Homo sapiens: one gene and its partners. The protein of the gene in region 1 purifies or fractionates together with the protein of each later gene. This does not show direct contact. Each region holds a gene or a part of one and is shown on either strand. Other genes may lie near its edges. The genes, in order: RPAIN, OXSR1 and PDXDC1.

Region 1 (3,651 bases):
CCCAGGCTGGAGTACAGTGGCGTGATTTAGGCTCACTGCAACCTCTGCCTTGCGGGTTCAAGTCATTCTCCTGCCTCAGCCTCCCAAGTAGCTGGGATTACAGGTGCCTGCCACCACGCCCGGCTAATTTTTTTTTTATTTTTAGTAGAGATGGGTTTTCACCATCTTGGCCAGGCTGGTCTCGAACTCCTGACTTCGTGATCCACCCACTTCAGCCTTCCAAAGTGCTGGGATTACAGGTGTGAGCCACCACGCCCGGCCTTCAGTAATCTTAAAATACAGAAAAAGCCCTTTTATCTGGCATGATGGGGACTGCAAGTTTGCCAGTTAATTGAGCGATTGGTTAAAGAGGCAAATTATAAAAATAAAATGTTTTATGGTAAGTTTCAAACACATAAATTTATTTGCCAGCCTTTGAGTGGGGCCCTGCTGATTGGAGAGCTGAGTCACCTGTTTTATTTTTTATTTTATTTGAGACAGAGTCTCACTCTGTCACCCAGGCTGGAGTGCAGTGGTGTGATCTCTGCTCACTGCAACCTCCACCTCCCGAGTTCAAGCGAATCTCCTGCCTCAGCCTCTTGAGTAGCTGGGATTACAGGCACGTGCCACCATGCCTGGCTAATTTTTGTATTTTTAGTAGAGACGGGGTTTCACCATGTTGGTCACGCTGGTCTCGAACTCCTGACTTCAGGTGATCTGCCCACCTTGGCCTCCCAAAGTGTTGGGATTACAAGCGTGAGCCACTGTGCCTCGCTGAGTCACCTTTTTTACATAAACAACTTCTATAATACATAGTCCAGAGTTTCCGGTTTTAATTCCATAAAGTGGATCAAGAAACTGAGTATACAACTTAGGAATTTTTCCTCCCCATCTTTTACCTAATTCTATAGCTCTTTTTCTTTCTTTCTTTTTTTTTTAAGCAGCTCATCTGTTTGTTTCCTAAACATTCTACTTATCACTATAAAAATAAAACTTATTATTTACATAATAAGTAATTAGCATTACTGAGTTACAGTAGGAAGTTCAAGTAACCCAAGCAGACCCGGGAGCATATACTGCTAGTTGTTGGTAAGGATGCACTCAGCTGGTGGGGGCAGAGGCAGAGGGAGGCTGGAAAGTAGCCTACAATCTCTGAGCGTTCTTCCTGCCATGAGTGGCCATCAGTGTGTTTGACAGCAGGAGTAGAGGGCGTTGGTTAATCTGGAGAGGCAGTTAAATGGAGATGGGTTAAGAGATCTTGGTACAGTCATGGGCCCGAGTGTCTTTAAGGCTCCAAGGAGTCAAGCCATCACAGTGAGCCACGGTTATATTGGTTGGCATGAGGAATGAGGATTTTCCATCTGTTGGCTATCAAGTCACTGAGAGGAGGTTGAACTTTTTTATTTTGTAGTCTTCTGAGTTGACAGAGCAGAAGCTTCGTGCCTGTTTAGAGGGTAGTATAAATGAGCACAGTGCACATTGTCCCCACACACCTGAATTTTCAGTCACTGGAGGAACAGAAGAAAAGTCCAGTCTTCTCATGAGCTGTCTGGTAAGCGTCTCCTGGGACCCACTCTGTGGTAAGAGGGACCTGTGGTTGGTTTTATTCCCACCTTGATAGAAATAATGACCTATAAACAGGTAAATGTTTAATGCAGTTTATTATCTGAGGAATTTACCTGCATAGAAAAGTGAAGGTAACAAGTCATTTAGACTCAAAGGCCAGTCAGAAAGAAGGGAAGAGGCAGCATGGGATCACGGCAAGAGGATTGGTCTGGGAGTTAGGACGCCTGGCTCCACACCTGCTCTTCTTTGATCAGTAGTAGTGGTTTTGGATTCAGCTGGTCATTTCATAGTCATAAGACCCAGATAGGCCATGCTGGCACCACTTTTGCGGAAGGAAACAGGGCAGAAGCATAGCAGGGCAGCATTAGGTTTGTCTGTCAGTGGAGTTTTTACAGAGGTCCAAGGGCTATTCGCTAACCTGAGTGACAACTGAGGTGTGAGGGCCAGGAACACAAGTGGGTAAGGGAACCACCTGTCTTAGAAGCGTGCTATAGGAACCAATATCTCTTATAATCCATGTCCTTTCCATATATGTGTATGTATGTATGTACATGTGTATATATATCACACAAACACACATAAAACCAATATGATACGTATTATTATTGCTTTTAGATCCCAGGCAGGGGGAGCCTTGGGATTAGGAGCACACTGTACTTCAGGAAGTTCATAGCCATGGCTTTCTACTGGGAATTTAGAATTCCTTCATGGCCCTGTCATTCCAAATGCAGTTAACCTACAGAGGTCATTTTTATTATAAGCAGCATTGCCTGGTAACAGCCATTTCACCTTTATCAAGTTTCTTCCATAGGTATTCTACTCATTCATTAAAAAAAAAATGAATTGAGGACTCATTAACATTGAGAAATACACATCTCTCACAGAGCTCAAGCCTTGGGTTGGTAATAAGAGAACAGAATAAACAGGCAGTACCCTGGAGAGCTGTACAAGGAGGGCTTATGGGAGTTCAGAGGAGGGTGATCTCCTTTATGGTGACACCTTCCTGGAGGAGGCATTTAACTTGGCCTTGAAGCATGGAATCGATCTGGACAGACATGGAGATCTGGTGAGTTGTGGGGGTAGAGCTTAAGTGGAAGATCCCCACATAGAAGAACAAGGCAGAGAAGCAGGAAACTGGAGTATATACAAAGAGCATCTTGTTCTACTTAGCTGGAGCATTAGGTTCATGAGGGAGAGGATAGTTCCTGTTAGGAATAGGAAACAGATTCAGAGAAGTGATGTAATCTGGCCAAAATTTTACTACTAATAAGCGATAGAGCTGGTGTTAGACCCCAGGTCTTTGTGGTTCCAGTGCCCCTGCTGTTTCCTGCTCCAGGCTCAGGCCTTGGTGGAAGGATGCCATTTTCCATCAGCTTGTATGGAAAGAGACATAGCAGGTGAAAGTTTAAATAAAACCCCTCACTACTTCCTGTTGACTACAAGCATATGTTCCCTTCTGTTCCAGCTATCCAGCACTGGTAGCAGATGCTCAAATATGCAGTGCTTTCAGGCCTCTGTGCTGTTGTTTAGGCTGTTCTGTCTGAATGACTTTGACTCCTCCCACTACATTTAAGGATCATTTGCACAAATATTTACCAAGCACTACAATATGCCGTGTACTTCATTCAGCCTGATTCCTCACAAGGAATTGGCCAGTCTCAGCTGGCCACGGTGGCTCACGCCTGTAATCCCAGCACTTTGGGAGGCCGAGGTGGGCAGATCACCTGAGGTCAGGAGTTTAAGACCAGCCTGGCCAACATGGTGAAACCCCATCTTTACTAAAAATACAAAACTTAGCTGGACATGGTGGTGGGTGCCTGTAATCTCAGCTACTCGGGAGGCTGGGGCAGGAGAATCGCTTGAACCCGGGAGGCGGAGGTTGCAGTGAGCTGAGATCGTGCTGCTGGATTCCAGCCTGGGCAACAGGGTGAGATTCTGTCTCAAAAACAGAATTGGTGGCTGAGTGCGGTGGCTCACGCCTGTAATCCCCACACTTTGGGAGGCTGAGGCGGTCGGATCATCTGAGGTCAGGAGTTCAAGACCAGCCTGGCCAATATGATGAAACCCTGTCTCTACTAAAAATACAAAAAAATTAGTCAGGCATGG
Region 2 (3,651 bases), on another chromosome or scaffold:
TTCACATCACATAGTATTTCATATTTCATGGCAATACCAAAAATTGGGAAATATGAGGACAAGGGGAAGGGTAAAAAAAAGTCAGAGATAATAACAACTATCATTTTATACAAGCTAAACACTTCCCACAAATAATTACACTCAATCTATATAACGGCCCCAGTGACATAGGTACTATTCTCCCCACTATACAGACAAAAAGCTGACACGGAAACTAATCATATAATTTGTCTAAGATCACATAACTAGTAAGAGGCAATGTCAGGATTTGAATCTGGGTCAGTCTAACCCCAAAGCCCAAATTTTTACAGCTGCTTCAACACATGCCAAATACAGTATAACACATGCTCAGAAATTCTAATCTAAGACTAAGGGCTCAAAAATACTGAAAGATCAATGATTAATTGTGAGAATGATACTAACATCTTTTACACATAATCATACTTAAAGAACTTCAAATCTTGCCAAAGCATGCTTAAGGTGATACAATTCTTTAAAAAAAAAAAAAAGTCCTTTGAATTTTCAATCTATAGGCTTTTAATATGTTCCTAAGAGGAGATTCTGTTCTCTGTAGGATTTTACCAGAAAGACGAAGAACAAAACAGAATGTGAGAAACAATCCCATAAATAGTATACTGCTGAGAAGCAAATGTGAAAAAAATTACAGTTCAAATAAACATGTTACAGTTCAAATAAATGTACGTGTTTTGATGGAGATGACACCATTACACTGATTTCTCTAGAATACAATCCTTTGAAAACAAAATTTAAATGATCCCAAACCCTTTTTTCTAGATTTTAATCATGTGTTTCCTGAAAAAGTTGAGTGTAATCTGAAATCATAAAGATTCATTTTGAAGACTATAGCTTATTATAAAATACTATGTAACAAACATTTTGGTATGGAAGCAAAGTTAGAATAAGAATACAATGCTTTACTGAAACTTGCTACTTATACTAGGCTGTAGCTCAAAGAAAAAAAATTTTTTTTCTCCCTGTTGGGAAAATGGAGAGAGGCTGTCAGGAGCAGACTGGAAGGACGTGACAGGTGTGGAACATCCATCAGATTTTTTTCACTCTAAGGATAGATACTTCCCTTGGCCAGGCACAGTGCTTCATACCTGTAAACCCCAACACTTTAGGAGGCTAAGGTGGGAGGATCACTTGAGCCCAGAAGTAGAGACCAGCCTGGACAACATATGAGACCCTGTCTCTACAAAAAAATAAAACAATGAGGCGGGCATGGTGGCACATGCCTGTAGTCCAGCTACTGGGGAGGACGAGGCAAGAGGATCACTCGAGCCAGGAGTTCATACAGTGAGACAGTGAGCTGTGATTACATTCCAGCCTGGGTGACAGAGTGAGACCCTTCTCAGAAAAAAGCAGGGGAGATCATTCCCTTAATCTGTGAGACAATGACCCCCATCTTCCAGTTTATATCCAAGAACGAATCAATGTAGATACAGGAACAAGGATCCCGAATTAGGCTACAGGAGACACAGATGCCAGTATTGGCTCTGCCTCTAATTAGCTACATGGCTTTAAGCAGTCATGTTACCTTTCTGTCTCTGTGTCTTCAACTGTAAAACAAGGTGGTTCACCTTACTTCACACCATACACAAAAATTAACTCAGTATGTATCAGAGGCTTAAATGCAAGAGCTAAAACTAACACTTAAAAAAAAACAGGAAAAAAAAATCTTCACAATGTTGGGTTAGTAAAGATTTCTTAGATACAACACCAAAAGCAAAATCAATAAAAGAAAAAAATGATAAACATCAAAATTCAAAACTTTTGTACTTTAAAAGACTCCATTAAGAAAATGAAAGAGGCCAGGCGCGGGGGCTCACACCTGTAACCCCAACACTTTGGGAGGCCGAGGCAGGCAGATCATCTGAGGTAAGGAGTTCGAGACCAGCCTGGCCAACATGGTGAAACCCAGTCTCTACTAAAAATACAAAAACTTAGCCTGGTGTGGTGGCACGCATGTGTAATCCCACCTACTTGGGAGGCTGAGACAGGAGAATTGCTTGAACCCAGGAAGCGGAGGTTGCAGTGAGCCAAGATCATGCCACTGCACTCCAGCCTGGGCGACAGAGTAAGACTCCAACTCAAAAAAAAATAATAATAATAAAATTAAAGAAGGCTAAGCGCAGTGGCTCACGCCTGTAATCCTAGCACTCTGGAAGGCTGAGGCAGGCAGATCGCTTGAGCGATCAGGAATTTGAGACCATCCTGGGAAATGTGGCGAAACCCAGTTTCTACAAAAAACACAAAAATTAGCCAAACGTGGTGGCATGTACCTGTAGTCCCAGCTACCTGGGAGGCAGGGGTGGGAGGATCACTTGAGCCCAGGAGGTGGAGTGAGCCCTGATCATGACACTGCACTCCACCCTAGGTGACAGAGTAAGACTGTCTCAAAAAAAAAGAAAGAAAATGAGAAGAAAAAAAAAACTACAGACAGGAAAATATTTAAATTAAATCATATATCAGATGAACGACGCATACCCAGAATGAATACACATACAAACACACATACACACACTTCTATAACTCAAAAAAAAAACGAACAGCCAGGCGCAGTGGCTCACCCCTGTAATCCCAGCACTTTGGGAGGCCAAGCAGGCGGATCACCTGAGGTCAGGAGTTTGAGACCAGCCTGCCCAATATGGTGAAACCCCATCATTACTAAAAACACAAAAATTAGCTGGGCATGGTGGCAGGCACCTATAACCCCAGCTACTCAGGAGGCTGAGGCAGGAGAGTTGCTTGAACTCAAGAGACAGAGGTTGCAGTGAGCCGAGATGGCACCACTGCACCCCAGCCTGGGCAACAGAGCAAGACTCCATCTCAAAACAAACAAACAAACAAAAAAAAAAACAACCCAATGGGCAGTCCAAGTGGACAAAAGATTTGAATAGATATTTCACCAAAGAAGATCCATGAAAGTCTAATAAATAAGGACATGAAAGGATGTTCATCATCATTAGTCATTAGGGCAATGCAAATCAAAACCACAATGAGATACCACTTCATAGTCACTAGGATGGTTACACGCAAAAAGACAACAAATTTAGAGAAACAAGAACTCTTATAATTACTAGTAGGAACATAAAATGGTACAGTTACTTTGAAAATCAGTTTGGCAGTTTCTTAAACAGTTGAATTTGTGATATAACCCAGCAATTCCACTCCTGGGTATACATCCAAGAAAAATGAAACATATTCATGGGGTGACTTGATGTGAATACTCAAAGCAGCCTTGTTCCAAACAGCCAAAAAGCAGAAACAATCCAATGCCCATTAACTGGTATCCAATAAAAAGGAACCATGTACTACATGGCAGATGGATGAACCTCAAAAAGCATTATGGAAAGTAAAAGAAGCCAAACACAAAGGACCACATATTATATGATTACATTTACATAAAATGTCCAGAAAGGACAAATCTATAGAGACAGAAAGTATATTTGTGATTGCCTGGGGCTGGGGGTGGGAACAGGGAGTAACTGCAAATGGACATGAGGCATCTTTCTGGAATGATGGAAATGTTCTAAAATTGGATTGTGGTGATGACTGAACAATTATGTAAATTTACTAAAAGATTATTGAATTGTACATTTTAATCAGGTAAATCTTATGGTACGTAAA
Region 3 (3,651 bases), on another chromosome or scaffold:
AACATGCTCATAGAGGCCTAGGCAGACACACCTTGGTGACCAGCCTCATTTGCTACGTATTCTTGAAAACAGAGAAGTCATAAAGTCAGGCTGGAAAGAAACCTTAAGGAGTCCACCCAGAAAGGAATGAAGCTGGCTTCTCGGCCGCATGTCCAATGGCTCGTGTCTCTCTCCTTTCAGAGCAGTCTTACCTTGGTCCCTCTTCTCTCCTTTTGAGTGATTTTTAGGGAAGTAATCATCTGTTTGGAGGATACCTTATCAGCCTTGTATCCTGGTCCTCCATGCTAAGGGACCCACAGCAGTAGGTCTATTCCTGGTGGGAAGTGCTATAGGGAAGGGGTGTAGGGGGAACCACACATACAACAGCCCATTTCATTCACCCTCAGGACACAGCTCCAGAGCAGAAGTCCTCCCTGACCTTGGTGGCAGGGGTGAATGTGTCTGCCTGAGTGTCCAGCTACCCGCCCTCTTCTCTAAGGCAGGGTTACTACACAGCGTGGCTATGTGGATCTTTCCCCCTGAGCTTGTGAGATCACTGGGGCATGGGCTGTGTCAAACCTACTTGGCATCTCTGACACCTGGCACAAGGCCCAGCTTACAGGAAACATTGACAGACTTTGAGAGACAACGAACAGACATCCCAAGGGCAGCTGCTTTCCTCGTGGCCCCTGCTGTTTGGTGGGACAAAACTCAGAAGAGGAATGAACACTGATGGGTGCTACGGACCCTCGAGTTCTCCTCTATCTCCCGGGCTGTGGCCGCAATGGTCTCCACGAGCTCAGCAGCATCGACGTTGTCGCTCGCCATGCCGACATAAAGGCAGCTCTTCATGCTCTTATACTCAGGGCCTGCAAAGGTAACGAGACAAACTTGAGTTTCTCAGTCCTCTGTCATGGGTGAGACGTGGACCTACTCTCCTGTTCAGGGTCCTGACCACACACAAAGGGGTCTCCTCCATGGAGATTCTAAGGGCGGAGAGAAAGGCCTGGCAAGGCTGCAGAAGGGGAGGGAGGTCTCAGAACCGCATCTTCGCCTGGAACCCAGCCCGAGAGGCGCTAGCCCGCTAAGGGATGAGCCGTCGTCTTCAAAGCCGGTTACCAAGTGTCCTTCCAAACCCCACAGCTGACTTACAAAGTAAGCAGTTACCTATTTTAAAGGTTAGGTCAGATTCCAGTTCATTTAACTTCTTCAGGAGTCCAGCATGGATGTTTTCCCCTTCGGGATCTGATTTCAAACTGCTCTTATCATCATTAGCATGTTCATACCTAAAACAACATCAAACCACAGCATTTCAGCTTAAAAGATCAAATGTCTCTTCTGATACAGGATTAGAAACCTCTAAATATTAGCAAGACAATGCAGTGGAACCAGTGGGCAAAAGAGCTACTGCGAGTGTCTCCAGACCACAAACTTTCTGGAAGTGTGCCAGGAGTAAAGAGAAAGTCACAGGAAAGCCTTTTTTTTTTTTTTTTAAAGCAGGGTCTCACTTGGTGGCCCAGGCTGGGGTGCAGTGGCATGATCTTGGCTCACTGCAACCTCCACCTCCTGGGCTCAGTTGATCCTTCCATCTAAGCTTCCCGAGTAGCTGGGACTACAGGTGTGCACCACCACCTCTGGCTAATTTTTGTATTTTTTCTAGAGATGGGGTTTCGCCATGTTGTCCAGGCTGGACTCAAGCTCCTGGCCTCAAGTCATCTATGCTCCTGTTGGCCTCCCAAAGTGCTGGGATTACAGGCATGAGCCACCGTGCCCAGCTGAAAGCCTAAGTCTTTAGTTCCATACAAGGTCTGGAAGTCTCATGGGCAATACAAAAAGAGGTTTGCCTCACCTCTGAAGGCGAGAAAGCAGCCATAGGACTGCACCCAGTTCTCTCCCCGAGAGCTGGGTTCTTTTTCTTACTGATTTGCAATTCTCTATATGCCCTGGATAGTAACCATTCTCAGTGAGTGATATATACCTGTTGGCATCTTCTCCTAGGTAGCTGAGAGTCGGCACCTACAGACAGAACATTCAGCAACTCCCCTCCCTGAGCGCCACGCTGGCCAAATTGCCTGCTTGCACTGTGCTTTTGTAAATGCCCAGAAAACCGAGTTGCATTTTCGTTAAGCATATTGTGACTACACGTTCATCTTGGATTTCTAAGGTGGTTCAGAAAATGACCCACTCATGTTCTTTATACAGAAAAGTCTCCAACATCAAGCGGCAGGCCAAGACTTTACCTGACAACCCCTATTCCAGACCAGTTAGGGTCATCAACATATAGGAGACCTGCTGTTGCTTCCACTTCCTGCTTGAACTCTTCACGCAACTGGAGCGTACAGCACAGCACTGGCAGTTTGCTTTCTATGCAGGCTACGAGCTGATCCACATCCTCTCCCCGAGTTCCTAAAACTGAAGATGTTCACAATGTCAGAGAAATGCTCACGAGATGGCCAATGACAAGAGGGCAGGGCTCCCTCTTCCACTACTGGGAAGGTCAAAAGCTCGAGGTACTCCAGTTACCGGGAGCCATGGAGATTTAAACAAAAAAAGGCCCTCAACACAGATATGGAAGAATTAGGGTTAGAAACAGACACAGCTGGCTGTAGCAGGTGTGGAGTGTTTCTCTCACAGATGTGGCCCACAATGACATACTCCAGTGTTAGAAATCACTCTTCCCACAGCAAGCCTACTTCAGGCAGGCTGGAGACATCACACCATAGGTTCAGCACAAAAAGGCAACCACAGATTCTGTACATTCCTATGACTGAGAGAAAGGGAAGTACTGTGGTGGGCTGCTGTCCCCACACAGGAAGGACAGGGAGATGGTGACAGCGCCGGGCCTCAGGGCTCACTGGCTTACTTTTGCAGTTTTAGAGACTAAGTATCTAGAGCTGTGGCCAGGCAATCCTTATAGTGGCCAGTGCTTTGGGAATCTGAGCCAGGAGGATCACTTAAGGCCAGGAGTTCAAGAGCAGCCTGGGTGACAGAGTGAGACCACGTCTCTATGGAAAAAAAAAAAAAAAAAAAAAAATAGATGTGGTGGTGCTCGCCTGTAGTCCCAGCTCCTTGGGAGGCTGAGGCAGGGGATTGCTTGAGCCCAGGAGGTCGAGGTTGCAATGAGCTATGGTGAAGACACTGCATTCCAGCCAGGGTGACAAATGAGACCCTGTTTCTAAAAAAAAAATAAAAACCAAAACACAGATCCCCAGGCTCCATTCTAGAATCTCTGGGGGTGGGCGGCCACTGGTTGTGTGTAAAGCTCCCGGATGACTCTAATGTGCAGTGGGGAGTGAGAACCCTTGTAGTGGAAAATCGAGAGTCACAAGACATCAAAATATAGGAATTCCAGCCTGGCCAACGTGGCAAAACCCCATTTCTACAAAAAATGCAAAAATTAGTCCAGTGTGGTGGCTCATGCCTGTGGTCCCAACTCCTCGGGGGCTGAGGTGGGAAGATCACTTGAGCCCAGGAGGTCAAGGCTGCAGTGAGCCATGATCGCACCACTGCACTCCAGCCTGGGTGACAGAGCAAGACCCTGTCTCAACAACAACAAAAAAGGAATTCATGTGATGACTTTTTTTTTTTTTTTTTTTTTTTTTGAGATGGAGTCTCCTCTGTCCCCCAGGCTGGAGTGCAGTGGTGTAATCTCAGCTCACTGCAACCTCGGCC

The links.
Region 2: the proteins of RPAIN (region 1) and OXSR1 purify together in Homo sapiens (affinity purification with mass spectrometry; one large-scale study listed by BioGRID and IntAct). This does not show direct contact.
Region 3: the proteins of RPAIN (region 1) and PDXDC1 purify together in Homo sapiens (affinity purification with mass spectrometry; one large-scale study listed by BioGRID and IntAct). This does not show direct contact.

The regions. Positions count from the first base shown.
Region 1 is NC_000017.11:5,426,681-5,430,331, forward strand, and holds part of RPAIN (RPA-interacting protein), read left to right. Parts: intron 1-1,390; coding exon 1,391-1,531; coding exon of another isoform or gene 1,532-1,597; exon of another isoform or gene 1,598-2,981; intron 2,982-3,651. UniProt on the Homo sapiens protein: Mediates the import of RPA complex into the nucleus, possibly via some interaction with importin beta.
Region 2 is NC_000003.12:38,168,525-38,172,175, reverse strand, and holds part of OXSR1 (serine/threonine-protein kinase OSR1), read right to left. Parts: intron 1-3,651. UniProt on the Homo sapiens protein: Effector serine/threonine-protein kinase component of the WNK-SPAK/OSR1 kinase cascade, which is involved in various processes, such as ion transport, response to hypertonic stress and blood pressure.
Region 3 is NC_000016.10:15,030,475-15,034,125, reverse strand, and holds part of PDXDC1 (pyridoxal-dependent decarboxylase domain-containing protein 1), read right to left. Parts: intron 2,392-3,651; coding exon 2,220-2,391; intron 1,266-2,219; coding exon 1,147-1,265; intron 849-1,146; coding exon 727-848; intron 1-726.